Linked DNA regions of Homo sapiens: all the other regions are reported to be linked to region 2. The links are microRNA targets in miRTarBase. Many come from high-throughput screens and were not tested one by one. Region 2 holds a microRNA gene; each other region holds the end of a gene's coding sequence.
Evidence for each region. Region 2 holds the annotated microRNA hsa-miR-4665-5p (CUGGGGGACGCGUGAGCGCGAGC, at 2,905-2,927, opposite strand). A microRNA usually pairs through its seed, bases 2 to 8, with sites in the 3' UTR of a target mRNA and lowers its output. Matches are read on the target gene's strand: a 7mer-m8 pairs with bases 2 to 8, a 7mer-A1 pairs with bases 2 to 7 and ends in A, and an 8mer does both.

Region 1 (5,000 bases), not on the chromosome of region 2:
AGGAAGGATGCAGGCTCTGGCCTGTCTGAATTGGTGTGTAATCCAGGATGGATTATTTCCTTCCTCTAGGCCTTAGTTTACCCAGAATCAATAAAATGGGGCGATCCATCCCTGCCCGACCTATACCAGTGTACAGAGGAAAAAAATCCCATACTTTGGAGGCCAGGAGATCTGTGTTCCAATCCTGGCCCCACTGCCTGCCAGTTGCAATGAGGAGGCTTCTCATCTCACAACCTCCATTTCCTTATCCATTACGGGGACCATGTCCAATGTGCAAAGTTATTGCAATAAATTGAGACAAAGTAAATGCAAATAACTGGCATGTCATTTATTGGTTTATTGTCTTTCTCACCCACTAGGATGTCAGCCCCATGAGGCAGAGACTTGGTCCTGTTCCTTGCTGCACCAAGCACCCAGGATGCTGCCTGGTGCTCAATAAGAGATCCCTAAATAATCATTGGTTGAATAAATGGACATAAGGGGTGCTCAATAAGTGATGGCTTCCATTGTTATTCTAAAGTGTCCTGAGACAGAAAGCATTTGAAGTTCATGGTTGTTGAGAAAGGAAAGGTTCAAAAGCAAGTAATGTCCAGGGTTGGCATGGGGCTGTCTGTCTGCCAGGTGATGAAGGGTACCAGGAAAGCTGGGCTTATCTAGACCAGGGGACAGGACTATGTGCTCATGAGAGGCAGGCAGGGGCATCCATGAGCAACGGGGGCACTTGGGGCATCCTGTCCATTAGACTCCCTCACTCTAGCTGCCTGCAGGAGGACATGCAGGCCCAGTCTGCCAGCGCAGCTGACTTTTGCAAAAGCAGCCAGAAATCCAGTGGAAAACAATTCATTTTTACAAGCAAAACACAAATGAGAGCAATCAAAATTCATCTGTAGGTTGGGAGGGGCCCAGTGGTGTAGCCCAAGCTTCTTGGGCAGTGTGGGCAGAAGGACCCCTTGGAGTGGCCTCCATGGGTTCCTGGTCTCTCCAGCCTTCTCAGGCAGCCAAAGCCCCTGAGACATGGGACTCCACTTGGGGGAAGTGCCAACATGCCATCCAGATCCAAAAGGCTGGGATCACAGCCTGGGAAGGAACTGCTTCCCTGAGTTCTTGGGCTCACAGTGGTATCCAGGCTTTGGGGCTCCTGGGCTCAGAGCAGGTCAGCCCGTAGTGCCTGGTCTATGGAGATGTTCAGTAAATATTCATTGAACAAGTCTCTTAGGTGTGACTTTGAGCACAGCTCTCCATCTCTGGACCTCATCTATAAAATGGCCACAGTAATGTGGCCCCACCTACCTCACAGAGATAACGGAGAAATCAAGTGAGATGAAAGGGGTAAAAGTTTTTGTTTCTAAATAGCAAAGTGCTTTACAAATGCCAGGTGTGGGAATTCTCGTTGTCATTATCATTATGAGTAAGACACTTTTGCCAGAGCAGAAGAAGGGGGCCTGGACCCAGAAGGGCAGAAAATCTACAAAAACATCACAAGGAGGGTCTGGATGGAGCCCACCAGGGCTCATCACAGAGCGGACATGTGCTTACCAGCTCCGAGACAGACCCAGTCATGGAATACAGGTTTGTCCTCCTTCCCAGCGACCCGGCCTCCTGCTCAGTGGGGGACCCGGTCAGGTCAGGCTGTATCTCCCCAGACAGAGGGTTTCCGGGAAAATACACAAACCCCACCTGTGCTGTCTGTGAAATATAGCAACTATATAAATAATATAAATACTTTCTCATATATCTTAGCTATATAAATTATTCTCCTTTGCTCTAAAAACTATATATTTGAGGTAGACAAAAATACCCTGTGAGCATTTCCCTTAAAGCTGTAGAATGAGGGGTCAGTGGTCACTCTAGTCCCCAGGGGCCCCAAGAGGGCCGAGGTGGGTCTTCAGGGGTAACTGGAAAAGAAAGGGATGAGAGCAAGGAAGAAGAGAGGGAGAGAGACAGACAGAGAAGACCCCACAAGCCAAGGAGCCCTCAGAACCTGCACTGTGCCATTGACTTGGGGTGTCCATGTTAGCAGCCAGCCACTGCCTAGATGCCTTAGAGCCTGCCCTTTGCCCTCCCACGACCCTGGCACTGCCAGCCATGAAGTCAGAATGCAGGTGGCATGTTGGTGGATCAGGGTGCTCTGGCCTCCACGTTGCTCCCAGGCCCCCTGCTCTGCCAGTGAGGTCCCTGCTGCCTTACGCCCAGCACTGAGCCTGGGTGGAGGCAGAGTTGGGGTCTCGGAGGAGCAAGATGGATTGGGAAGGCAGAGAAAATCTCCATGCTGTGGGGAAGTGGAAGAAAGGAGAAAACCAGCCCTCTCCCCATTTTTCTCCTGCTGCCAAGGTGTGGGCCAGGTGCTTGGGTCAGCAATGTCATTTTAACGAGAGGGGCTCAGGTCAGTTTGGCTTCTCAGCCGGGCCTCTGCAGTCAAAAATCCTTCCAGCATCCAGCAGACTGCCCTGATCCACTGGAGACTGGGCAGCTCCTCCTCGCCCTTGGAGGTCTCAGGGAGTTGGCCAGGGCACAGTCAGCGGGCCTTTGTCCTGGAGCTGGCACAGGCGAGGTTTCTGAGCATTCAGCTGATTCTGAAATTTCCTGTGTTGGTGAAGGGTCAGCAACTCTAGGTTTAGGGAGAAAGGAAGCTGACAGATGGGCGTGGCAGGGCCAGCAAAGTGGCCAAGGGCTTCCCGAAAGAAGTCACTTCCTCCTGGGTGGCATCGGGCCCCACTCTGGGGAAGTACAATGCCTCCAGCAAGGGGACCCCTGCAAGGTCTTCATCCTGAACAAGAGAGGCATGTGCAACAGGAACCCCCAGCCTGGTCCAGGGGCTGTGCATCCATGTGTGCCTGTGTGGAGGTACCAGTCTCTCCTCCTTTCACAGAGGGCCTTGGCAGGTGCTGCTGAAAATGTCCACAGGATCTGAGGAAATTATCAAAGTCACGTCTCCTCCTCAAGTAAGAGCCAAAGTGAGGGCCAAGTGAGAGGCCATTAGGAACTGAAGGAGGCTACCCAGGAGCCAGGCTTAGCAAGGACTCAAGCACCTATAACCCCAGCCAGGGCAAAAGCCTTAACTAGATGAGCAGCCACAAGAATAGAAATGTAACTTCAAGTCATAGCTCGTGAGCCAGCTGTTCTTCAGTATTGTGAACTCAGCTGGTATGGGGGTGTCACAGACCAGGCAGGCCCCAGCCACAGGAAGTCACCAAAGCTCACTCAAGAGCCAGCTGAGAAACTGAGCTCGCCACGTCACTGCCAGGCACCAGGAAGCTGTTGCCCTCCTCCTCTGCGCTGGGAGTGAAGATTCCTTTGGCCAGCAGGGAACACAGGGAGGGGCCGTTGTCTCCCTGTTCAACCTCAGGTGCACTGAGTCCCGCCTTGGTGGCTAGTTCTCCCACCTGTCTTACCTGCACTGGTGGTAGTTTTGAGCACGGCTGGGTGAGTGTGCATAACCCAGCTCTCGAGACAAGAATGAGGCCTCAGCGGAGGCATATTTGAAAAGCCAAATCAAGGACACAGGGCTCCAGGGCACAGATCTCACTCGGGTCCACTCAAGCACAGAAAGCTCTCCTTTCTCTGAACGGATGGCTTCTACCACCTGTGCTTTCTCCCCATCTCTGGCACAGCAAAACCAGGGGAGTGGTGGAGGTGTGTGACACCTGGAGCCCACTGCACCTGAGCAGGGCCACAGGACCCGATTGACCCATCTCAGCCAGGCTCCCGCCTTCACTTCCAGCTGGCACTGCCTGCCTTGGCATTCCTAGCCCAGCAGTTCACCTCCCAAGAACATGCTGGCTCCAAGCCATTCATCCCAGGAAGCAAGATGGAATAGCCCCTCTCTCCCGTCCAAAATTTCAGTCCTGCTGTGCTCTTGGTCTCCCTTATTTCCCTCCATGTCTTTCTCACTCTGCCCTCCTCTCCAAGTCCTCAACAAGGTTGGGGATGCTTGGGTTAAGGGAGGAGGCTTTGCTTCTCTTTGTTGAGTATCGAGGGAGGCAAAAGGCTGGCCAAGGAATGGTGGTGAGTGGCACACTCGTGTGCATTGGCACACATGCCGGTTTATGCATGCATGTGATGACAGTCTGCCCAGAGGGCCGGCTGGGCAGCTTGAAGGGTGCCACAGGAGGTCCTGGCAGTGCCAGACTGGCTTGCTGGGCAGTAGGCCTAGTGCTTGCAGGTGTACACAAGCTCCTCCTGCACACATTGCTGGCACTCCACGTAGCAGCACCACTGCACCTGGCAGTGGCAGGAGAAGGCCACCAGGCGGCTCTGGGTGTCATAGCCCCGCCCGCAGCACAGGCTGCTGCAGCTGGCCTCCCGGGAGCACACCCTACCTGCTGTGCCAGGTGAGTACTTGCTGGGCCGGCAGAAGCTGGGTGAGTCCTCCATGTACACCAGGTCCCCAGACCTTGGGGCCAGGCCTTTGGTGAGGCTGCCCTGCCTGGCAGGGGCCCACAGCTCTAGGCGGCCCAAGGCCTCATTGGTGGCACTGGACACCTTGACAGCCGAGTCATAGCGCAGTTTCAGCACCTGGCCCGTCTCACGGAACGGGGAGAGCTGCTTCCAGCAGGTGCGCACGGCACAGGAGCCTGATACGCCATGGCACTTACACGTGGTCCTGAGGCCACTCTTCACAGCCTGTGGGGGAGGCAGAACAGAGGCGTGGTCAGAGGCCTGGGCCCAGCAGCCAGAGCCTGCCCCCAGAGCACCAACCCCAGCAGGGCAGAGGCAGGAGAATGGGAAAGAGACCCAGGGTCTCAGCCCCAGCTCCTCCCCTTGGCCTGGAGTTCTTGTGGAATAGACAACTTACGCGACTGAACACAGCAGTCCCAGTTCACACCAACTGAGTGACTGAACACAGCAGCCCCGGTTCACACCAACTCAGTGACTGAACACAGCAGCCCCGGTTCACACCAACTCAATGATTGAACACAGCAGCCCCGGTTCACAACTCAGTGATGACAACTCAGAACTTAATCTCATAAACAGCTAGAGCACTGGTGTCTCCCAGCCTC
Region 2 (5,124 bases):
TATTAATAGAGGTTTTCTCTAGGTGGTAGGATTAAGTGGCAAATTTTCTCCTCACTTACCTATATTTTCTAATTTACCTACATACCTACAACCAACATATTTCTTGTTTTGTTTGTTTGTTTTGAGATGTAGTTTTGCTCTTGTTGCCCAAGCTGGAGTGCAATGGCACGATCTCGGCTCACTGCAACCTCCGCCTCCCAGGTTCAAGCAATTCTGCCTCAGCTTCCCGAGTAGCTGGGATTACAGGTGCGCACCACCACTCCCAGCTAATTTTTTGTATTCTTAGTAGAAACGGGGTTTCACCATGTTAGCCAGGCTGGTCTAGAACTCCTGACCTCAGGTGATCTGTCCACCTCAGCCTCCCAAAGTGCAGGGATTACAGGTGTCAGCCACCGTGCCCAGCCCATATTTCTTGTGTAATAGAGTTTCTTTTTTAAGATCAAGGACCCGATCCTACTTTCATTATAGTTAAGTTGCTATCATCTTGACCTCTTCATAACCTAGAGTTGAGGTTCCTTCTACTCACCCACACCTTTCTCTTTTATATAATCTTAATTAAGAAACCCTTTATCAACATTTCTAGCAATTCCCTACACTTTTATGTATGAGGAATTAGAAATTCTGCCAGATGACTTGGAATTAGGCACCTGGAGTTTTTGAAGTATGACAGACCTAGATTTTAACTTTGTTTAACAACTTTCTTAAACTAAGAGGCAGTTTCCTCATCTGAAAAATAAGGTTAATACCTAGCTGATAGGCTTGTTGTGAGATTAAAGGAGACAATGAATATAAAGTGCTTAGTGGCACAGGGTTCAATAATGTAAGCTAATATTGTCCAAGAGTCATGAAATAGAGCTGATGACTAAAGAGGAGTAGAGGATGTTTGCTTGGGTACGTTGGGCTTCAGATTCCTGGGCTTTGTCGAAAGAAAGGAGGAATGTCTAGTCAGACACACGTTTTGGTTGCCAGGTGCTGAAGTAAGACTGATCCCTGCATTTTTCTTTCTGTGAGCTGAGGTTCTGTGGACTCTTCAGAGTCCACAGACTCTTCTCTGAGGGGAGAGAACCCTGTAAATGCGTTATATATTACAAATGTCTGATGAGAGGAGACCTCGAATACTAGATAAAAGGTATGTGTGGAGGACAGTGTGAATACCCTAACAGAGCGTTCCCGCTTCACTATTTTACTTAAGAGTGATACTTAACTTACTGGACAAAAACAGCTTTGAGGTTAAAAAAAAATTTTATCACTGCTTTAAAGTTCACATTAATGAGAAGTAAACAATTGCAAGAGTCAGAGTATCCTAATCATTTAGTTATACACATTTTACTTTTAAAATGCATGATTTCTGTAATTTTGTTTTTGTGTTTAGGTAATTCTAGGTTTTAACGAGGGTTCTGTGTACCTAGAAAAAATAATATGTGCGTCTTTCAAATAGAACATGAGGAAATAGTAGTATTTGCTTTATGGAACCATGAATTCCTACCTCCCAACTAATTTTAAGTAACATGTAAACCAATGTGAATGATGAGTCCACTTTTTAGTCATTAAACAGTAATTGTAAAATGTAGTGAGATTATCAGCCCATGCAAACAACTGTTTAATGCTGTACAACTCAGACATGAACTATTTTGACTGTTTTCAGTCCCAAGAATTTGTTTAAATGAGGTTCCATTCTCTTTATTCTTAACAGATCTCAAGAATCGGGAGGGTGGAAATTTGTAACTGAAAACATGGAATTAGTTCCAAAATATGAATTGATGTTAAGAGCTGGGGTTCTAAAAATCACTTCCTTTTCTTCTGCATGTGAACGTATGGTCGAGTCCTTAAACTTTCTTTCTAAACTTCTCAAAATTCTGGTTATATATAGAAGACCCGCAGTCACAAGGGAGAAAGGGTGGGAACAGAATGTAAATTTTATAGTAGAGAAGATTTACATTTTGCGCTTTCTCACTATTCATTTGCCATTAACAAAGGTTATCTAGCAACTTTAATTTTAGTTTGGGGGGCTAACACGGGTCTTGCAAAAGAAGTTTCCTCTTGAAGCACTTGCTTTAAAAAAAGCCTTTTGGCCACCTTCCCAGGCGGTAGCGAATTAAGCTGCGCAGGCGCCTTGCTTCCCCCTCCATCAACATGTTCGATTGGCCTACGATTGATTACATCATTGGTCCGCGCAACCCTAGCAGGCTTCTGGGCCTGTAGCTGAGCCGAAGCTCTTCCTTTTGCGTAGCGGGGCGGGGCACGATGGTGGCGGGGGGGGAGGGGGGAATTGTTCTACTACGCATGCGCACCGGGGATGGCGACAGGGCCTCTTTCTTTGCTTCTCTCCACAGCTCTTCCCAGCCGGGGGGCTGAGTGCCCTCCCCCTTCTCTCCCTGCCCCTCCCCTTTCTCCCCCCTCACCGCCCAGCGGGGCTTCTAACTGACAGTTGTCGCCGGGCCCCGTCCGTGCACCGCCTCCTTCTGCCCGTGTCCCCCGCAGGTAGAGGGGGGCGGGAGGGGGTGTGAGGGAGAGGAGGAGCCGGAGCCGCCGCTGCGGCCCCCTCCGGGGAGGGGAGAGGAGAACCCCCTTCCTCCTCGCCCCCTCCCAGCCCCCCGCTGGCCCGGGAGGGGGTGGGGCGCCGAGGCCGCGGCGACCCGGCAGGGCCTGGCCGGTGAAGAGCAGGCGGGCGGGGTGCGGAGGGGTGAGGCCGGCGAGGGCCGTGCGCGCGCCGCCGCCGGGGGGGAGGGGAGAGGAGGGCACCTAGGCTCTCCTCTTCTCTCCCCCCTCCTCGCGCGCCATGTAACCCCGCCCCGCCGGCGGTGAGCTCAAGACCCCCGCGCGCACCGAGCCGAGCCGGCGGCTGAGGAGAGCCAGGCCCGATGTGGCGGGGGCTACGCGCCGCGGCCGAGCCGTGAGGAAGCGGCTCGCGCTCACGCGTCCCCCAGCACCTCGAGCGGCTGTTCCACACCGCCCAGCCTAGGCCTGCCGGGGCATGAGTGTGCCCGGGACGCCGGGAGCGATGGAGCCGGCTGGGGAGGAAGAGCGGCCGCCACCGGCGGCCGAAGGAGAGGACGACGAGGAGGAGGTGGCAGCGGCGGCCCAGACCTCAGGGCCGGCCCACGGAAGGAGTGCCTCCTCGCTGGAGGACGCGGACGATCAGGAGGAAGAGATGGAGGCGATGGTGATCGGAGGCGGTTGCTGCAAGGAGCAGGAGCTGACCTACGAGCTACAGCAGGGCTACCGCATCCTGGGCGAGTTCCTGCAGGAGAAGCACCGGGGCCTCACCGCCCCCTTTCTGCAGCCCTTGGGGGGCGTTGCCACCGCGGAGGAGGAGGTGGCGGAAGGGCCGCGCAGCGGGGGCCGGGGCGGTCGCGCCTTCCCGCAGCAGCCCGGACAGGGCATGTGTCTGCTGCAGATGGAAGAGAAGTTCGCCAGCGGCCAGTACGGGGGCATCACCGAGTTCGTGGCGGACTTCAGGTTGATGCTGGAGACGTGCTACCGCCTGCACGGAGTGGACCACTGGATCTCCAAACAGGGCCAGAAGCTGGAGATGATGCTGGAGCAGAAGTTAGCGCTTCTCTCTCGGTAAGCGAGCCCGGTCCCCGGTGGGACTGACAGACTGACACAAACACACACTCACACGTGCCCGAGGATGGGCTGGGCCAGGGGCCTGGGGGCGGCGCTGATAGGTGCTGAGTCGGTGCTGGAGAAGCCCGGGAGGAGGAGCGGCGCTGGGCGGGGACCGGAGGGGTGTGGTGGGTGTGGGCCGAACCCGGCTTGCGCGTAGACTGAGAAGGAAACCCGAGTCTGCAGCGCTGAAGAGCTGGGTATAGTTTGCAGATGTAAAATGGAATGGGTCCCGTAGGAAGAATTGCACGTGTAGGCAGAGGAACAGTTTTTGTGGGATGGAAGTTGGACCTGCAACTTTTAGACAGTTTTAGCATGACATTTAAAACAGCGTTTAGGATGAAATATCTCTAGAAAAATAATTTTGGCTTATGTAAAAAGGTGTCTTAAACCATTAAAAAATAATTTTATCATTTACTACCCATGTCGGTCATCGAAGATTTATGGAGTGTTACTAAATGGTTAATGGTTACTTTTGCATACTACTGATCTTTTCTCTCCGTTTCATCTGAGGACACCCAATTTTTGCAATAATAGGGAATGCATCAACACACATTTTTTAAAGTTTATACATTTATGTTTATTCTACCAGAAATCATAGGCAAGTCAGATGATACTGTGCTCTTGGTATCCGCCACCCATATATCCAATTATTTAACACAAGAGGAGGATACTAAAATGAATGTATTGTTTTATAATAATTGTATAGTCTGTGTCAGCCAAGTTAATTTCTAAAGTTTAAATTTTTCGGGAGTGGAAAAATTCAATGTTTTTGGTATTGGTAGTTGAAGTGGAATAGTAGTTTGACTGTTTACTATTAGAGTGAATTTAAGTTGAGCAAGTCACTTAACCTTTTTGGCCTCAGTTTCCTCATCTATCAAGCGGGGATAATAATAGTACTTCTCTCATAGAGTTGCTTTGAGGATTTAATGAGTTAATAAATGTGAAATCAACAGTGCTGCTCCCATAGTTAGCCAAGTATAAGTGTTAGCCATTTTAATGTAAGTAGTAGCAGTCGTTGAATAATATGAGTGTATACTTCATATCTGAAACGGCATTATACTTGTGCTCTTACAGAATAGCTCCTAGAAATTGTGTTAATTTTTTGGTTCTTGATTTGTCACTGTAATTTAAAAGTAACCTTTGTCATTGGCTTCCCATATGCCATTTTCAAGACTAACGGTGATTTTTTTCACCAAAAACAGTTAACATAGTGCCTGTCTTCGTTAAGTGAGCTCTCTTTAAGGAACCTCTTCTTGAATCCTTTCATAGAGTAGGATTATTTAGTAATAGAATAATTATTCACATATTTGCTTTGTAAATTACTTTTAATACTTTAGTAATTTTGTATTTCTGTAGTGTGTTTGTTACCCTTGTCTCCACAGTGCATTATTGCTGTGACTCACATAAAAAACAATCCATTCACGTTATTATTTTGAAGTTATGAAGTATCCTCCTGATTGATGTCACAAGATTTTAGACCTGGAAGAACCTTAGAGTTCATCTAATCTATCA
Region 3 (5,124 bases), not on the chromosome of region 2:
GCAGCCACCACCAGTCCCAGTAGTGTTGGACCTGCCTAGGATCCAGATGCCCTGCTCTGGCCTTGCCGCCTTCTGTCACCTGAGTCAGACATGGGACCTGAGCTAGCCCTGGGTCCTGGAAGAGTCACACATTTCTAAGGCCTCCTCTGACTCTGGCCTCCCTGCAGAGGTGCCCATGGAGCGCGTGTTTGACTACAGTGAGTACTGGGAGGGGGCTCGGGGACTGTACGCGGCCTTCGACTGCACGGCCACCATGAAGTCTGGCAACTCGGACGTGTATGAAAATGAGATCCCAGGGGGCCAGTACACCAACCTGCACTTCCAGGCCCACAGCATGGGGCTTGGCTCCAAGTTCAAGGAGGTCAAGAAGGCCTATGTGGAGGCCAACCAGATGCTGGGCGATCTCATCAAGGTGAGCCCGGCCCGGTGCTCCTTACCTGACCCAGCCCTGCATGCACCTGCCACTGGCCTCCTTGAGGTGCCTGGCACCCTAACCTCCAGGGCCTTCTCCTCAGGTGACGCCCTCCTCCAAGATCGTGGGGGACCTGGCCCAGTTTATGGTGCAGAATGGATTGAGCCGGGCAGAGGCCGAAGCTCAGGCGGAAGAGCTGTCCTTTCCCCGCTCCGTGGTGGAGTTCCTGCAGGGCTACATCGGTGTCCCCCATGGGGGGTTCCCCGAACCCTTTCGCTCTAAGGTAGGGAAGGCCCAGCATGGTGTGAGGGTGGGGGCTGGATGCAGGACTTGGGACTGATCCTCTGCTTTGCTCCCCAGGTACTGAAGGACCTGCCAAGGGTGGAGGGGCGGCCTGGAGCCTCCCTCCCTCCCCTGGATCTGCAGGCACTGGAGAAGGAGCTGGTAGACCGGCATGGGGAGGAGGTGACGCCGGAAGATGTGCTCTCAGCAGCTATGTACCCCGATGTGTTTGCCCACTTCAAGGACTTCACTGCCACCTTTGGCCCCCTGGATAGCCTGAATACTCGCCTCTTCCTGCAGGGACCCAAGATCGCAGAGGAGTTTGAGGTCAGTGGCTCTGGCGCTTCTCCACACTCCACCCTGGCCCCCTGCCCCAGAGCTCTGGAGTTTAGCTTGGCTGTCACCCAGCCTCGCAAGCTTTGGGAGCAGAAAGGACCCTTGAGACCGGGAGCTAGGCCTTTAGGAACGAGGAGCCAAGGCCCAGTGTGGGGACTTCCTATGGCCAGGGCCGGGGGACTGCTCTCCCACCTTGGCGTCCAGCTCTGAGTCTGCACACCCTCCCTGCAGGTGGAGCTGGAGCGGGGCAAGACGCTGCACATCAAAGCCCTGGCCGTGAGCGACCTGAACCGGGCCGGCCAGAGGCAGGTCTTCTTTGAGCTCAATGGGCAGCTGCGGTCCATCTTGGTCAAGGACACCCAGGCCATGAAGGTATTGTCTCCCCCAGGGCCAGCCAGGCGGTGGGGCTTGGCTGGGCCCAGGATGTCATGTCCCCTCTGCCCTGTGTCTTCAGGAGATGCACTTCCACCCCAAGGCCCTAAAGGACGTGAAGGGCCAGATCGGGGCGCCCATGCCTGGGAAGGTGATAGACATCAAAGTGGTGGCAGGGGCCAAGGTGGCCAAGGGCCAGCCCCTGTGTGTGCTCAGTGCCATGAAGATGGAGACTGTGGTGACCTCACCCATGGAGGGTACTGTCCGCAAGGTTCATGTGACCAAGGACATGACACTGGAAGGTGACGACCTCATCCTGGAGATCGAGTGATCTTGCCCCAGACCGGCAGCCTGGCCATCCCCAAGCCTTCAACAGAAGCTGTGCTGCCACGGCAGGCCCAGGCCAGCCAGTGCCCGAGGCCAGGAAGGCCGGGCCGTGGAGGTCCTGTCCACAGCTGGACAGGAGAGACACCGCCTGCGGTGGTTCATTCCTTTCAGCCATCGTCCTTTCCTCCGGCGGACAGCTGCTTACATGTTCATCTCTTGCCAAATAAGGGTCCCCTCCTCACTGGAGACTACAAGTGGTGGGTCAGGTGGTCCTAGGACCCAGGGGAGGTTTAGGGGTCCTATCTCCTGGGGGAAGGGGAGATCTAAGATGTCCCAGGTCCTGGGAAGTTTACTCAATAAAGCTGGCTTTCCCCTGCCCTCCATGCTGGATCCTGTGCAGCCCCCAGCCTGCACCACTCAGCAGTGGGGGGCTGCCTTTCAAGCTCCCCATGGGTGGGCAGGTCAGTTGTGTCGTTCTCCTCAGAGGGTAGTGAGAATGACCATCGTGGCCCTGTTTTAAGTCACTATTGGGTGCCTACTGTGTATACTCCCCAAACAGGACTAGTAGTACTGAACTTGCTTGAGGGGTGGGGCCTGTTCTAAGTATTTAACACCTATTAACACAGGGAATTAACCTTCATCCTCTTATGGACACAGAAATCAAGTCACAGGAAGATTAAATAATTTGTCCAGGACTTCACAAGTAGTAAGAGAGAGAGATGAAACCCAGGCCGTTGGCAGACTCGCCTCCCAACCCCGCTGCTTTATTTTCTAAAACCCAAGGCCAGCGTCCCACCTCAGTTAGCAGGTAAATGCAAGCAGGTACCACCTTGTGGGCAGTGGGTAAGACCCTCGGGAATGGTGATCCGGGAGTCTTGTGTGTGCTCTGGATGTGAGAATGTTGGTGGGAGGTGAGGGGGAGCACCGGGTCCAGGGTCTCAGGTTCTAACCCTGCCACTCCCCATGACCACCCCTCCAGACTCCTGCTCAGTTCCCTTTCCTGCAGTGGGGACAGTAACCCTGCCTGCACCACTGCCCTCCTGCCCACCTGCCCACAGGTAGGGAGAGGATGGTGAAGGGAGCAGGAGGCTGGGCAGTTCCTGAGATGGAGGGGTGGGTGTGGGGAGGCCGATGCAGGAAATCAGCCTCTGGATGGGAAGCACCCAGCAGGCCTCTGCCCAGTGCTCCCAGAGCCAGTCCAACCTCTGGGATGGGCAACTCACAGTGGGCTTGAGCCTCTTCCTTTCTGGACCGCCATGTCCTAGATGTACCCCAGGAGGCAGATGACTGCGATGCTGCCCCTTCCATCCGGGTGGATGTCGTTGTCATGGCCAGCCTGCAGGCATCGTGGGGGAGTGACCGCACATCCTTTTTCCCTCAGTGGCCAGCCTCAGAGAAGGGACCTTGGGACAACCTCCTTGATTGGGGAATGGGACCTAAAGGGCTTTCTTCCCTCCCCCGCCCCCCCTGCCCCCCACCCCGGAGATGGAGTCTCGCTCTGTCACCCAGGCTGGAGTACAGTAGTGTGATTTTGGCTCACTGGAATCTGTGCCTCCCAGGTTCAAGTGATTGTCCTGCCTTAGCCTCCTGCCACCACGCCCCGCCTATGCCCGGCTAATTTTTTGTATTTTTAGTAGAGACGGGTTTCACCATGTTGGTCAGGCTGGTCTCGGACTCCTGACCTCAAGTAATCCAGGGCTAATACTCTTTCAGGAATCTAATTTTAAAAGAGCACAGGCAGGGAAACGAGAGCCCTTCCAAAAATGATGGAGAGCAGGCAGAACACTTGCAGGTGCCGAGAAGGACCCTGGAGTCACTGTGTTGCTTGGCAAAGTCCCTGCTGCCCTCAGGGCTGCAGCCTGTGTTCTGGGTTCCTCTGGGGCAGAGGTCAGAGGTGGAGAGAACCAGAAAAGCCTCTACTTATGGTGACTCAGGGACCTATTTCCTCTTGTGAAAAACAAGACTGGCAGACTGTGGAGGTCCTGGCAGAGGCTTCAGGCCAGTCATCTTCCCCTCAGAGGAGATACGTCGGAGGCTCCATCGCTGAGGTCAGGGCCAGGGCCATGGTTCCCACTCCCTGACCCGTCAGCCAAGGCACAGGCCCCAGGATGAGCTGGGCTCACACCTGGTACCTGCAGTCTCAGAGCCAACCACACTAGGACTTTGGGGCATGGTTCAGGAAGGAGGAAGCCACAGGCTCCCAGCAACCAGAGCTCCCAGCCCATCCTGTACTCCAGGGAACTACCCGCCTGGATGCACCGCCCAGATGTCAGTGTTCAAGGTAGCTGGGACAGGTGGTGGGCACACTCCCAAGAGCTGCCTAGAGTCTTCACACAAGATCCCAAATAGACCGATTCCCAAAGGCCCAAGGCCATGTTACCCAAGTTAAATCTCTTTAATATCCCAATACAAAGTACTGATGCAAAAAGACAATGAGAAAACCCAGGAAGTTGGGGGGTGGGGGGTGGGGAGAGGTTTTATAAATAAAAAACCCCGAGCAGCTTTTCAGAGGCAGAGGAGCTAAGAGAAGCAGCAGTCCAAAGTGAGGAAGGGAGTGTGTGGCTCCTGGGACCTGCCCCTTGTCCCCTCACTCACAGCTGCTCGTAAACACCCCTTTCAAAAGGGGCTGCACCCTTTGGATATCTGCTTCTTTCTCTTGGTCCCTGGGACGCAACTAGCTCTGGCTTCAATCCCCTACAAAAATTCCTGAGATCTCGGGGACCCCAGCCAGCCCTTCCCCTGCAGTACCCCTTGGTGGGGAGGGCTGGGGAGCCGGTGAGAGTTCATAGCGTATCCAGGAGCATAGGTCAGGAGCACAGGGGAGCCTCTGAGTCCCCTGCCCGCTCCAAAAGCACACAAAGGGGAAGGCTGCCGTAGAGCTTGGGGTCCGTGAGGGGCTGGAGCAGAAGCAGGAAGAGTCCCACACCCAGGGCATAGCCTGCCAGCAGGGGCCGCCTCTGTGGGTGCTCCAAGGCCGCGCAAACAGCTGGGAAACCCATGTAATTGCAGAAGGAATGGCAGAGAACCGGCCCAATCAGGTGTCCTGGGGAAAAGAGACAGCAGCTCAGGGAGCAGCCCTACCACCTCCTCTGGCCCTTCCAGGGCTAGTGACCCTCATCCCCTGAAACAGGAGATCAAGATCCCACTACCCCAGCCATCCACCCACACACCACGGCCTCTGCTCCTTTCCACCTCTCAGACCTCACCAGGCTGAGGGCTCTGGCTCAGCCTGTCTCAAGGACTGGAGTAGAAGAACTTTTGTTCCTAGAACAAACAGTATTCCCATTCTCCCACCCGCTCCTGTGGGCCCCCAGGGACCCATGAGGGACTGAGGACCAACCTGTGCGGATGAAGAGGAAAGCAGTGTAGGCACCGAAGACAGCTGTGTAGGAGAA
Region 4 (5,105 bases), not on the chromosome of region 2:
ATATTTTGTTGTTCTTTCTTTTTTGGGGGTTTTTAAAGAGTTGCATGATTTTGAAACAGTGTTCTGGTTTTTAAAAAATCTGCTTGATACTTGTAGAAACAAATTGGAGAAACATGGTGGAAACTTCAGATGGACTGGAAGCATCAGAAAATGAGAAAGAGGTATCCTGTAAGCACAGCACTTCTGAAAAACCCAGTAAACTTCCATTTGACACACCCCCAATTGGTAAGCAGCCATCATTAGTGGCTACAGGCAGTACTACCTCAGCTACAAGTGCTGGGAAATCCACAGCAAGTGATAAAGAGGAAGTGAAGCCAGATGACCTGGAATGGGCCTCACAGCAGAGTACAGAGACTGGCTCTTTGGATGGCAGTTGCCGAGATCTTTTGAATTCCTCCATCACCAGCACCACCAGCACTCTTGTACCTGGCATGCTTGAAGAAGAAGAAGATGAAGATGAGGAGGAGGAGGAAGATTATACTCATGAACCCATATCTGTAGAAGTGCAGCTCAATAGTAGAATTGAGTCTTGGGTCTCAGAGACCCAGAGAACTATGGAAACCCTTCAGCTTGGAAAAACCCTTAATGGTTCTGAGGAAGACAATGTAGAGCAAAGTGGAGAAGAGGAAGCAGAGGCGCCTGAGGTGCTGGAGCCAGGGATGGACAGTGAGGCATGGACTGCTGACCAGCAGGCCAGTCCTGGGCAGCAGAAGTCCAGCAACTGCAGCTCGCTCAACAAAGAGCACTCTGATTCTAATTACACAACGCAAACTACGTAACTCAGGAAATGTCGGCTCTCTATCTCCAGCTGTGGAAGGGTTGCAGCCATTACCTTTTATGCTTCATCTCAACATTTTGCACTGTCCAGTATTTAATATACGTATTTAATTCCCAACAAATATTTTTGTAGCTTTTACTTGTTATGATCTGTAGCTTAGCTTTTAATTAGTATCTAAGTGTCTTTCTAAGAACTGTGTGGAAAATTCAGATCTGTTTCAGCTTATTTTGTAATCAAAAACAGTGATAAAAAGAAGACCAGATCTTAAAGAAAATAAATTTCAAATGCTTACTTAAAAGACATTTTGAAAGTTAAAGAACAAGGTTCTAAGGATAGAAGCAGTTATCAGTGTTTGCTTCAGGACTCCACCTCCTCTACTCTAATTTGACCAAAAAATTGTTTGGGCTTCTTTAAAAAAGAACTGGGGGTGGAGTCAGAAAATTAAATGAAAGGCTGAGGGTAACTAAGTCCACCAGTGTTGTATGTTAAAAAATCAATGCAACTTTTATGTGGTCCACAAATGTTTAGTCAGAAGTCACTGATTATTGTAATTAATTAGTGTTGGGATGGGCTAAAACAGAGCCTTCAAAACTTCGGCTAGCAGTGGAGCCACCATCTTAGATTATAGCTAGCTAGCCTCATTTGTGGAAAGTGATAGATGCTGTCTATAATAGTGAACAGTCACCCATGATAGGACCTCCAGGTTCTGTCTCATATTTGCTTCTTACTTACCTCAGGAATGCTCTTGTACATAGACTTATTTACAAAAAGCTAGGCACATGTTGACAGGTGAATAACTGTAACCGATTGTATGACTGCTGCACTTACATGTAAACTCTTCAGAAACAGAGTCTTATACTGGTGTGTTCTCTTGCATGCTTCTGGTTCAGGACTCTTGATTTGAGATATGGATTTGATTGAGTATCCAAACTTGTCCTGAGTGCAAAACTGTTTCACCTTTTAAAAAATACCTATTTTGCACCTAGCCTTGAGCACCTTCCACATAGCAATGACCATAGTTACTGTCAGGAGGTCAAGGAAAGGAACTTTGCACAACTTGTGACATGTATCCTGATAATCAAGGCTTAGAGGAGGAAGTTTTAGAAGATAAGAGAAAGTTGTTCTAATTGTGCTGAAACTATTAGATGATTTAGAGTATACAGATATGTAGGTATTAATTCTCTATTCACTATTATTTATCTCTGCCCTTCTCTAGGAGTTTGTATACCTGCTTAGGAGACAATAAATGAGCTAAATGTTTTATTTGCTAGTCAGTCACCACCTGGACTTCAGTGACTTTACAAGTTTATGTAATGGTGGAAGAATGACAAACTATGTAATTTTTTTGTCTTCCATCCAACTCCCCACCACCCCCAACTGTCCCCCCCACCCCCCTCACACACATGCACACATCCGTACGTGTGTGTGTTTTCCACTTACAAGCTTCCATAAGCAGGCACAAAACTGAGAAGGAAGGGGTATTATCCCTGCCCTGATTATCTGGGGCAGGGCTTTGCCTCACAGAGGCAGGAGAGAAGAATTGGGCAGATTCTTTACTGAACTCATTGGGACTACTGTGCTAGTTTTGATGTTTTATAATGCTGGCATTTAATTACTGGAGAGATTGGATTCTTGGTTGATGATTTAGTATTTGTGAATTGTGAAAGTTCAGGAGCTGTGTAGAAAATGTTAGTCAATCAACTTTATTATTGTGCTAAAAGGGGACATTCTTATACTGTCCTGTCTAAACTGTTCTCCAGTATAGACTTCCTAGGCACTAAATATCCAATATTTAAAGGAACACAGCAGGTAAGGAATGAAGCCTCTGAAATAGTACTCATGGATTTATACATGGCAGATCTTACTGTCTCTACACATTTGGAAGTGTTCGTTGGTTTAAAGAAATGATAGAGGTTTTGAACTACTGACAGTCTTAAAAGTGAATTTAAAAACTGTTCATACTTTTTATGGTGTAAATTTCCTTTGCTCGATGTCAGTGATTCAGATAACTCTTGACCTTGAGATGATGGCTTTTCACAGGTTTCTTATATTTTATATCTCTTCTGAACATGAATTGTCATTTTAGATTTTTGACATTTGTATCAAAAGAGAAGTTGAGGAAATCTTCAGAACACTGGTAACTTTTAGTTTTGCTATAGACTTCAGAAGTGTTTATTTATATGTTCGGTAAATGCTCTCGCATATGCAGTACCTCTTCTGCCAGCAAATCCAAGGGACCATAGCCTTTTTATGAGACAGGTCACCTCTAGAGGACAACCCAAGAATTATTAAAGGAAATGTTACCATTTTGAGAGCATGCTTAAATAAATATTAATAATGTCTTTATAACTTGTTTCCTTTAAATTTTGGAATATTGAATTACAGGCTTTGGAGGAGTTGTGAAAATTAGGAAAGTTTTTATATATTTTTTGAAGTGGGCATGGTTGGCTCTTTGAAGACCTATAAAGAGATCCAGTGGGAAGAGTAAGGGTTGGTTCATCATCACAAGAAATAAAAAACATAGTGATTTTTTCTCTTAATGTGTAGAGGTGGTTTTACTGGCAATAATTAATAATAGATTTCTATTTCAGTATGTAAGCATATTAACTAAAATATGAATTACACTTCCAAAGTTAGATTTCTGCTTCAGTAGGTTTGTTTGCTGTGAAGATTACTTCTCAAAAGACAGATGTTCATATTAGCTTAATTTTCGGTTTAAATATGTTTGTAAATGATGTAATATATTTCTTTTGACTAAATGTGGAAAAGTAATGTGTGTTATACATTGAGAAGTTTTTACTGGCTTTGACTGGAGGTTGTTTTTGCAGAGATGGTATTTTATATGATTCCAGTATTTGGAAAAGAATTAGTCAAAAGGAATTCACATAGTTTAAATACTGAGAAATTAATATCCAAATATGTACTTGTCTGATTTCTAAATAAGCTGGGGGAGGAGGGAGGGGTGGGAATTGAAATGTGCAAATGAGTAGTGAATGCTACACTCATTTTCAACTCTTTAACATGAAACTGTTCAATCTTAACACATTGTTACTTTAATATATGTATAAAGAAGTATTACTGTTTGTAAAGCTGCTGTTTGCTTAAAAAAAAAAAACACCCTTGTCATGTATTTTCTGTATGTTGGGCCAACAGGTTAGAACATCAACTCATTTAAAAATTTTTATCTTTTTTTGATTTAAAAAAATTCTGTGAAATAATTTATTTACAGACATCTTCCTCCTCCCTCATCCCTTCCAACCTTTACATACATCACAGAATCAACCAAACTGTTTGCCTAATCTGAAATCTGAATCCTAATGAGAAAAATTTAAATTTTGTTGGCACATCACACCTTGAAAGTATTTGTATTATTTTATAATTTAATTTCTAAATATACCACATAAGTTTATAATTTAATGTCTTAATTGTAATGCTCTAATAAAAAACTAGCAAAATTAGTGTGAGTTATAACATGAAGGGATTTTCATCTTTTGCTGTATGAAGGATAATTGTTATATCACATTTGGGGGGTAATAACAGCTTTTTTGCACTATGTAAATACTAGTGGGGATTCTTCTGTACTAATAAAATGATTATTGAAATGAAATCTGTCCTTTCAGAAGAGATACTTCAAGAGTTCATGACTCCCCACAAGTAGAAGACAGAAAAAAGAGTCCAGCTTGAGTATTGATTGGTGGTCATATGGAGTTGCCAAAAAAGGCTGTAAAATCGTCACGAAGGAGTTAAGAATAAAAATCTCCATCTGGGATGGTTGGTGTGATCTGCGGCATGGGCCCAGGCGTTTAGCCAGAGACCATCCTGGTTATTAGGAGAAGGCTTCTATAGATTCCTTCACCTTTTTATATTAGTTCCTCTGTGCTGGGCACTGTTCTAAGTCTTTTCCCAGTATTAACTCAATCCTTAAAACAGTCCTGTGAAGTAGATTTTGGTTACTATTTCTCACTTTTCAGATGATGGAAGAGTCATGGAGATGTTAACCCAGCCCCATACCAAAGCCCATGCCCCAATCACTGTACTTTGTTATGTCTTGGCATAAGGTGCACAGGGTGTGCAAGGCAAACATGCTTCCTTCACCTTCAGGTGTCTTTGGGAATGTGGAACAGGAGGACTGAAGAGGGCCTTGGGGACTAAAGTTATTGGGCCTCACCTCATCGCCCTTTCCCTAAGTAGCCCCAGGACTTCTCACTATGTCACAGTGAAATGTAGGGAATCTGAAAAAGTGCATTCATCTGTCAGAAAATAGGATACTAATTTTCATAACAAAGAAATGAACTTTTTGGTGATCACAAAGCGAAGGAGAATGCCT
Region 5 (5,105 bases), not on the chromosome of region 2:
TTTGCCTAGGTGGGGGGCCTGGCCTGTGCCCTCTGCTAAGGGGTGAGTAAGAGACTGATCTGTGCCCTCCCTTCCCCCTCGTCCAGGGCACCCAGAGCCAAGGTTCCGCCCTCCAGGACCCTGAGTGCTTCGCCCACCTGCTGCGATTCTACGACGGCATCTGCAAATGGGAGGAGGGCAGTCCCACGCCTGTGCTGCATGTGGGCTGGGCCACCTTTCTTGTGCAGTCCCTAGGCCGTTTTGAGGGACAGGTGAGGGACAGCTGCACAGAGGTCTGGGCACTACAGGTGGTGACAGCAGCCACGGGCTTGTCAGACTTTTCTGGCCCAGGGGCAGCATCTGCCCATCCCCTTGGGTGCCGATGGGACTGAGACCCCCTGGGTGGGATGGGATGGCCAGAGCAGGGTCCTGGAGTTCCAGCCACTGGCCGGCAACCTTGCTCTCACCTTGCTCTCCCCACTGGCCCAGGTGCGGCAGAAGGTGCGCATAGTGAGCCGAGAGGCCGAGGCGGCCGAGGCCGAGGAGCCGTGGGGCGAGGAAGCCCGGGAAGGCCGGCGGCGGGGCCCACGGCGGGAGTCCAAGCCAGAGGAGCCCCCGCCGCCCAAGAAGCCAGCACTGGACAAGGGCCTGGGCACCGGCCAGGGTGCAGTGTCAGGACCCCCCCGGAAGCCTCCTGGGACTGTCGCTGGCACAGCCCGAGGCCCTGAAGGTGGCAGCACGGCTCAGGTGCCAGCACCCACAGCATCACCACCGCCGGAGGGTCCAGTGCTCACTTTCCAGAGTGAGAAGATGAAGGGCATGAAGGAGCTGCTGGTGGCCACCAAGATCAACTCGAGCGCCATCAAGCTGCAACTCACGGCACAGTCGCAAGTGCAGATGAAGAAGCAGAAAGTGTCCACCCCTAGTGACTACACTCTGTCTTTCCTCAAGCGGCAGCGCAAAGGCCTCTGAACTACTGGGGACTTCGGACCGCTTGTGGGGACCCAGGCTCCGCCCTTAGTCCCCCAACTCTGAGCCCATGTTCTGCCCCCAGCCCAAAGGGGACAGGCCTCACCTCTACCCAAACCCTAGGTTCCCGGTCCCGAGTACAGTCTGTATCAAACCCACGATTTTCTCCAGCTCAGAACCCAGGGCTCTGCCCCAGTCGTTAGAATATAGGTCTCTTCTCCCAGAATCCCAGCCGGCCAATGGAAACCTCACGCTGGGTCCTAATTACCAGTCTTTAAAGGCCCAGCCCCTAGAAACCCAAGCTCCTCCTCGGAACCGCTCACCTAGAGCCAGACCAACGTTACTCAGGGCTCCTCCCAGCTTGTAGGAGCTGAGGTTTCACCCTTAACCCAAGGAGCACAGGTCCCACCTCCAGCCCGGGAGCCTAGGACCACTCAGCCCCTAGGAGTATATTTCCGCACTTCAGAATTCCATATCTTGCGAATCCAAGCTCCCTGCCCCAAATAACTTCAGTCCTGCTCCAGAATTTGGAAATCCTAGTTTCCTCTCCTTCGTATCCCGAGTCTGGGACACAAAACTCCGCCCCCAGCCTATGAGCATCCTGAGCCCCGCCCTCTTCCTGACGAAACTGGCCCCGGATCAGAGCAGGACCTCCCTTCCGACCCTCTGGGAACCTCCCAGAGGTCCAGCCCATCTCGGAGCATCCCGGAGGAAATCTGCAGAGGGTTAGGAGTGGGTGACAAGAGCCTGATCTCTTCCTGTTTTGTACATAGATTTATTTTTCAGTTCCAAGAAAGATGAATACATTTTGTTAAAAAAAATATAAAGCGCAAGTCCATGTTTATCTGGGAAATTGGGGATGGGGCGGGGAGTGGAGCGCCCCCTCTTCCCTCTGTCTTCTGGCTCCCGGGACTTTGCGCTCCCTACCTGTGGAGCGCGAGCGACAGTGGCGGCGGAAGGACGTAGGCTCCGCCCCGGCCTTGGGGCTTCCCCGCGCCGCCGAGGGCCCGTCCCGCGGGCGCCTCCTCCCGGACTGGCGGTGGGGCATCCCCGGCGCGGCCCCGCCCCCGGGCCTCAGCCCCGCCCCCGCGGCCTCAGAGCCACGGGCGCCCGCCCCGCCCCGCGCCGCCCCGCGCCGGCTCCGCAGCTCGCGCCCGCCCGCCTGCCGGCCCGCCCGGCGCCGGGCCATGGCGCTGCTGCGGGATGTGTCGCTGCAGGACCCGCGGGACCGCTTCGAGCTGCTGCAGCGCGTGGGGGCCGGGACCTATGGCGACGTCTACAAGGTGCGACGGGACGGGCGGGAGAGCCGGGAGGAGGGTGCCAGCCCCGCACCCCGCGGCAGGATCTAGCCCCCGGCCCCGCCCCCCATCCCGCTTCACCCTCCGCCCCTGCAGGCCCGCGACACGGTCACGTCCGAACTGGCCGCCGTGAAGATAGTCAAGCTAGACCCAGGTGAGGGCCCGGGTCGGGCCTCTGCGCCAGAGGAAGGGCAGAGCGCCCGCGGGCGCGGGGTGCGGGCGGAGGGTTGACGTTTCCGAGACCCCTGAGAGGCGTGCCCCGGGAGGTGCTGTCACCTGCACCTGCCTGGCCCGGAGGGAGGCACTCTGTGCCCATTTTGCAGATGGGGGCACTGAGTCAGGGCAACCCCAGCGCGCCTTCCCCATGATGCTTTGTGCTTCCCAGGGGACGACATCAGCTCCCTCCAGCAGGAAATCACCATCCTGCGTGAGTGCCGCCACCCCAATGTGGTGGCCTACATTGGCAGCTACCTCAGGTGAGGCTGCCTTATCCTCCTGGCCCCAGGCAGCCCCCATGTGACCTGCTTTGTGCCCACCCCAGCTCTTTGTCCCTAGGAATGACCGCTTGTGGATCTGCATGGAGTTCTGCGGAGGGGGCTCCCTGCAGGAGATTTACCATGGTGAGGCCAGGGCTCCAGGCCCCAGCAGGCCCCAGCCTTCCCCCACCCCTACCCCACTGGGGTACCAGAGGGGACTCTGGGCCCTGGACTTGGGCTCCTCTCCACTCCTGCCTGGCTGTGTGACCTTGAGAGAAATACTGTCCATCTCTGGGTTCAGTATCCTAGACTAAACTGGGAGGGGACGTGGCCAACACCGCTTTCATTTAACAGTGCCTGCTGCTTTTCCCACACACGGTAGCCTGGGAGGGTGGGCATGACCCCCGGGCCCCCAAGCCAGCCTCTCCCTTTTCCTTTCAGCCACTGGGCCCCTGGAGGAGCGGCAGATTGCCTACGTCTGCCGAGAGGCACTGAAGGTAGCTGGGCCTGTGAGGTGCCCACACCTCTGGTCTCCAGAAGCTGTGGGCCAGGAGCCCAGATGACCAGCAGGGAGGCGGGTGGAGTGCCTCGGGTGGGGCTGGCCCGAGGGGCTGTAGGTCCTGGGGAAAAGGGGCCCCAGCCCTGTTGCCGGAAGCAGTCCATTTCCCTCTTGGCTCAGTCACTTCCTGTTTGGGGAGAGGGGAGGAAGAAGCAGCCTGAGTGGGGGGCCCCAGTCCTGAGAGGGGGTTTGGGGAGGTGGGACAGTGCTGGGTGGCTGCTCTCAGGGACTCCTCTTTGTCGCCAGGGGCTCCACCACCTGCATTCTCAGGGGAAGATCCACAGAGACATCAAGGTAGGCACCTAGCTGGGGGCACTCCTGGGGAGGGAGGAGGAGGCCCTCGGGGGCACCAGATGGGATTGTCTCTCCTCCATTCCCACAGGGAGCCAACCTTCTCCTCACTCTCCAGGGAGATGTCAAACTGGGTCAGTACCCTGGGGACACCATCAGGGTGAGGGCTCTGTGGACCCTCCCCGGCTACCCTGGACTCAAGGGTTGGGTGTCACTGGGCAAGTCACTTTGCCACTTGAGTCTCAGTTTCCCTGCTTAGAAGATGGAACGGTACTCCCTCCCTGCTGGAAAATAGAGGAGGTTGGGTCTGCACGGAGTTGACATGGGACCAGGCACTCCGTCAGGGATAGAGGGTGGTTGACCCCTCTCAGGAGAGGGACCTGGCCTTGCCTAGGGCCTGCGGCAGCTGTGACCAAGCGGGGCCACCTGCCCGTCTGAGCCCTGCCAGGTGCAGCCGAGCCAGAGCCCTGGGCGTGGGAGGGTGAGTGGCAGCCAGAGGGCTGGTGAGAGTGGCTGTTTCTCCCCACAGCTGACTTTGGGGTGTCAGGCGAGCTGACAGCGTCTGTGGCCAAGAGGAGGTCTTTCATTGGGACTCCCTACTGGTGAGGCTGCGCCTGGGGCGGAGGGGTAGGGGCCACAGAGCAGGGCACCCGGCCATCCCATCTGTGACCCCACCTCTAGGATGGCTCCCGAGGTGGCTGCTGTGGAGCGCAAAGGTGGCTACAATGAGCTATGTGACGTCTGGGCCCTGGGCATCACTGCCATTGAGCTGGGCGAGCTGCAGCCCCCTCTGTTCCACCTGCACCCCATGAGGTCAGCCCAACACTTGCCCCTCACCTGACCCTTGATCTGCGGCCTGTGGCCCCTGACCTCGCGCCCTCCACAGGGCCCTGATGCTCATGTCGAAGAGCAGCTTCCAGCCGCCCAAACTGAGAGATAAGACTCGCTGGTAAGGGCCACACCCTGCTGCCGGGACCCCCTTTTCTGTCAGCCCCATAGTGGACAAACAGCCTCTGCCAACTCCCGGGGGGCAACCCCAAGAGCCCTGTCCTTTCTGGGCTACTACAGACCATCTGAGTCAGGGGCCTGGTCCTTCTGTGGGTTGAAGACCCAGCGTGGTCAGGAAAGAAGGGCAGAGGGTTGGTGGAGGAGCCGCTGTGTCGCAAGGCAGCGTTGCTCGGCCAGTGGCCCTTGGCCTCGGCTGGCTCCTTCCTGGGTGGGCCCAGCAGACGCCTCTGGAGGGGTGGTAGGGCAGCTGGCAGGACACCCTGCACGAGGGCTAACCTGGATCTGGCGCTGGGGGGCTCTTGTGCCTTCTAGGACCCAGAATTTCCACCACTTTCTCAAACTGGCCCTGACCAAGAATCCTAAGAAGAGGCCGACAGCAGAGAAGCTCCTGCAGGTGGGAGGCAGGGGGCCGGGAGAGAGGCCCAGTACTCAAAAGCAGGGCCCTGGATCAGGGGCCAACCTGATCACCCCCCTCCCCCACTTTCCAGCACCCGTTCACGACTCAGCAGCTCCCTCGGGCCCTCC

Region 1: miRTarBase lists WNT9B as a target of hsa-miR-4665-5p. Seed matches in the 3' UTR shown: 7mer-m8 at 1,608-1,614 and 8mer at 1,027-1,034.
Region 3: miRTarBase lists RCE1 as a target of hsa-miR-4665-5p. Seed matches in the 3' UTR shown: 7mer-A1 at 4,180-4,186.
Region 4: the mRNA of SECISBP2L is a reported target of hsa-miR-4665-5p. Seed matches in the 3' UTR shown: 7mer-A1 at 2,149-2,155.
Region 5: miRTarBase lists MEN1 as a target of hsa-miR-4665-5p. Seed matches in the 3' UTR shown: 8mer at 1,001-1,008.

What each region holds. Positions count from the first base shown.
Region 1 is chr17:46,875,868-46,880,867 of GRCh38, reverse strand. It overlaps WNT9B (Wnt family member 9B), which reads right to left. Exons shown (of 4, transcript NM_003396.3): 4 at 308-4,623. The coding sequence ends at 4,150. It also overlaps a transcript of LRRC37A2 not described here. Among named protein-coding and RNA genes, the nearest start is that of WNT9B, 27 kb to the right of the region's middle. RefSeq lists enhancers at 2,040-2,539, 3,849-4,449.
Region 2 is chr9:6,005,638-6,010,761 of GRCh38, reverse strand. It overlaps MIR4665 (microRNA 4665), which reads right to left and starts at 2,936; the gene lies at 2,858-2,936. BRD10 (bromodomain containing 10) reads left to right here and starts at 2,280. Exons shown (of 8, transcript NM_001017969.3): 1 at 2,280-3,567. The coding sequence starts at 2,975. RefSeq lists silencers at 2,213-2,732, 2,783-3,012, 3,203-3,362, 3,753-3,812 and enhancers at 2,250-2,749, 2,750-3,251, 3,383-3,612.
Region 3 is chr11:66,845,508-66,850,631 of GRCh38, reverse strand. It overlaps RCE1 (Ras converting CAAX endopeptidase 1), which reads right to left. Exons shown (of 8, transcript NM_005133.3): 7 at 5,070-5,124; 8 at 4,080-4,772. The coding sequence ends at 4,537. It overlaps PC (pyruvate carboxylase), which reads left to right. Exons shown (of 23, transcript NM_001040716.2): 19 at 168-412; 20 at 516-695; 21 at 773-1,021; 22 at 1,262-1,402; 23 at 1,485-2,212. The coding sequence ends at 1,733. Among named protein-coding and RNA genes, the nearest start is that of RCE1, 4.6 kb to the right of the region's middle. RefSeq lists an enhancer at 1-388.
Region 4 is chr15:48,987,918-48,993,022 of GRCh38, reverse strand. It overlaps SECISBP2L (SECIS binding protein 2 like), which reads left to right. Exons shown (of 18, transcript NM_001193489.2): 18 at 97-4,385. The coding sequence ends at 779. Among named protein-coding and RNA genes, the nearest start is that of SHC4, 27 kb to the right of the region's middle.
Region 5 is chr11:64,800,180-64,805,284 of GRCh38, reverse strand. MEN1 (menin 1) reads left to right here. Exons shown (of 10, transcript NM_001370259.2): 9 at 87-251; 10 at 469-1,769. The coding sequence ends at 951. MAP4K2 (mitogen-activated protein kinase kinase kinase kinase 2) reads left to right here and starts at 2,071. Exons shown (of 32, transcript NM_004579.5): 1 at 2,071-2,231; 2 at 2,343-2,400; 3 at 2,632-2,722; 4 at 2,802-2,866; 5 at 3,164-3,219; 6 at 3,528-3,575; 7 at 3,664-3,706; 8 at 4,102-4,174; 9 at 4,254-4,385; 10 at 4,459-4,521; 11 at 4,893-4,974; 12 at 5,069-5,105. The coding sequence starts at 2,136. RefSeq lists silencers at 1,932-2,111, 2,262-2,441 and enhancers at 3,952-4,001, 4,092-4,141.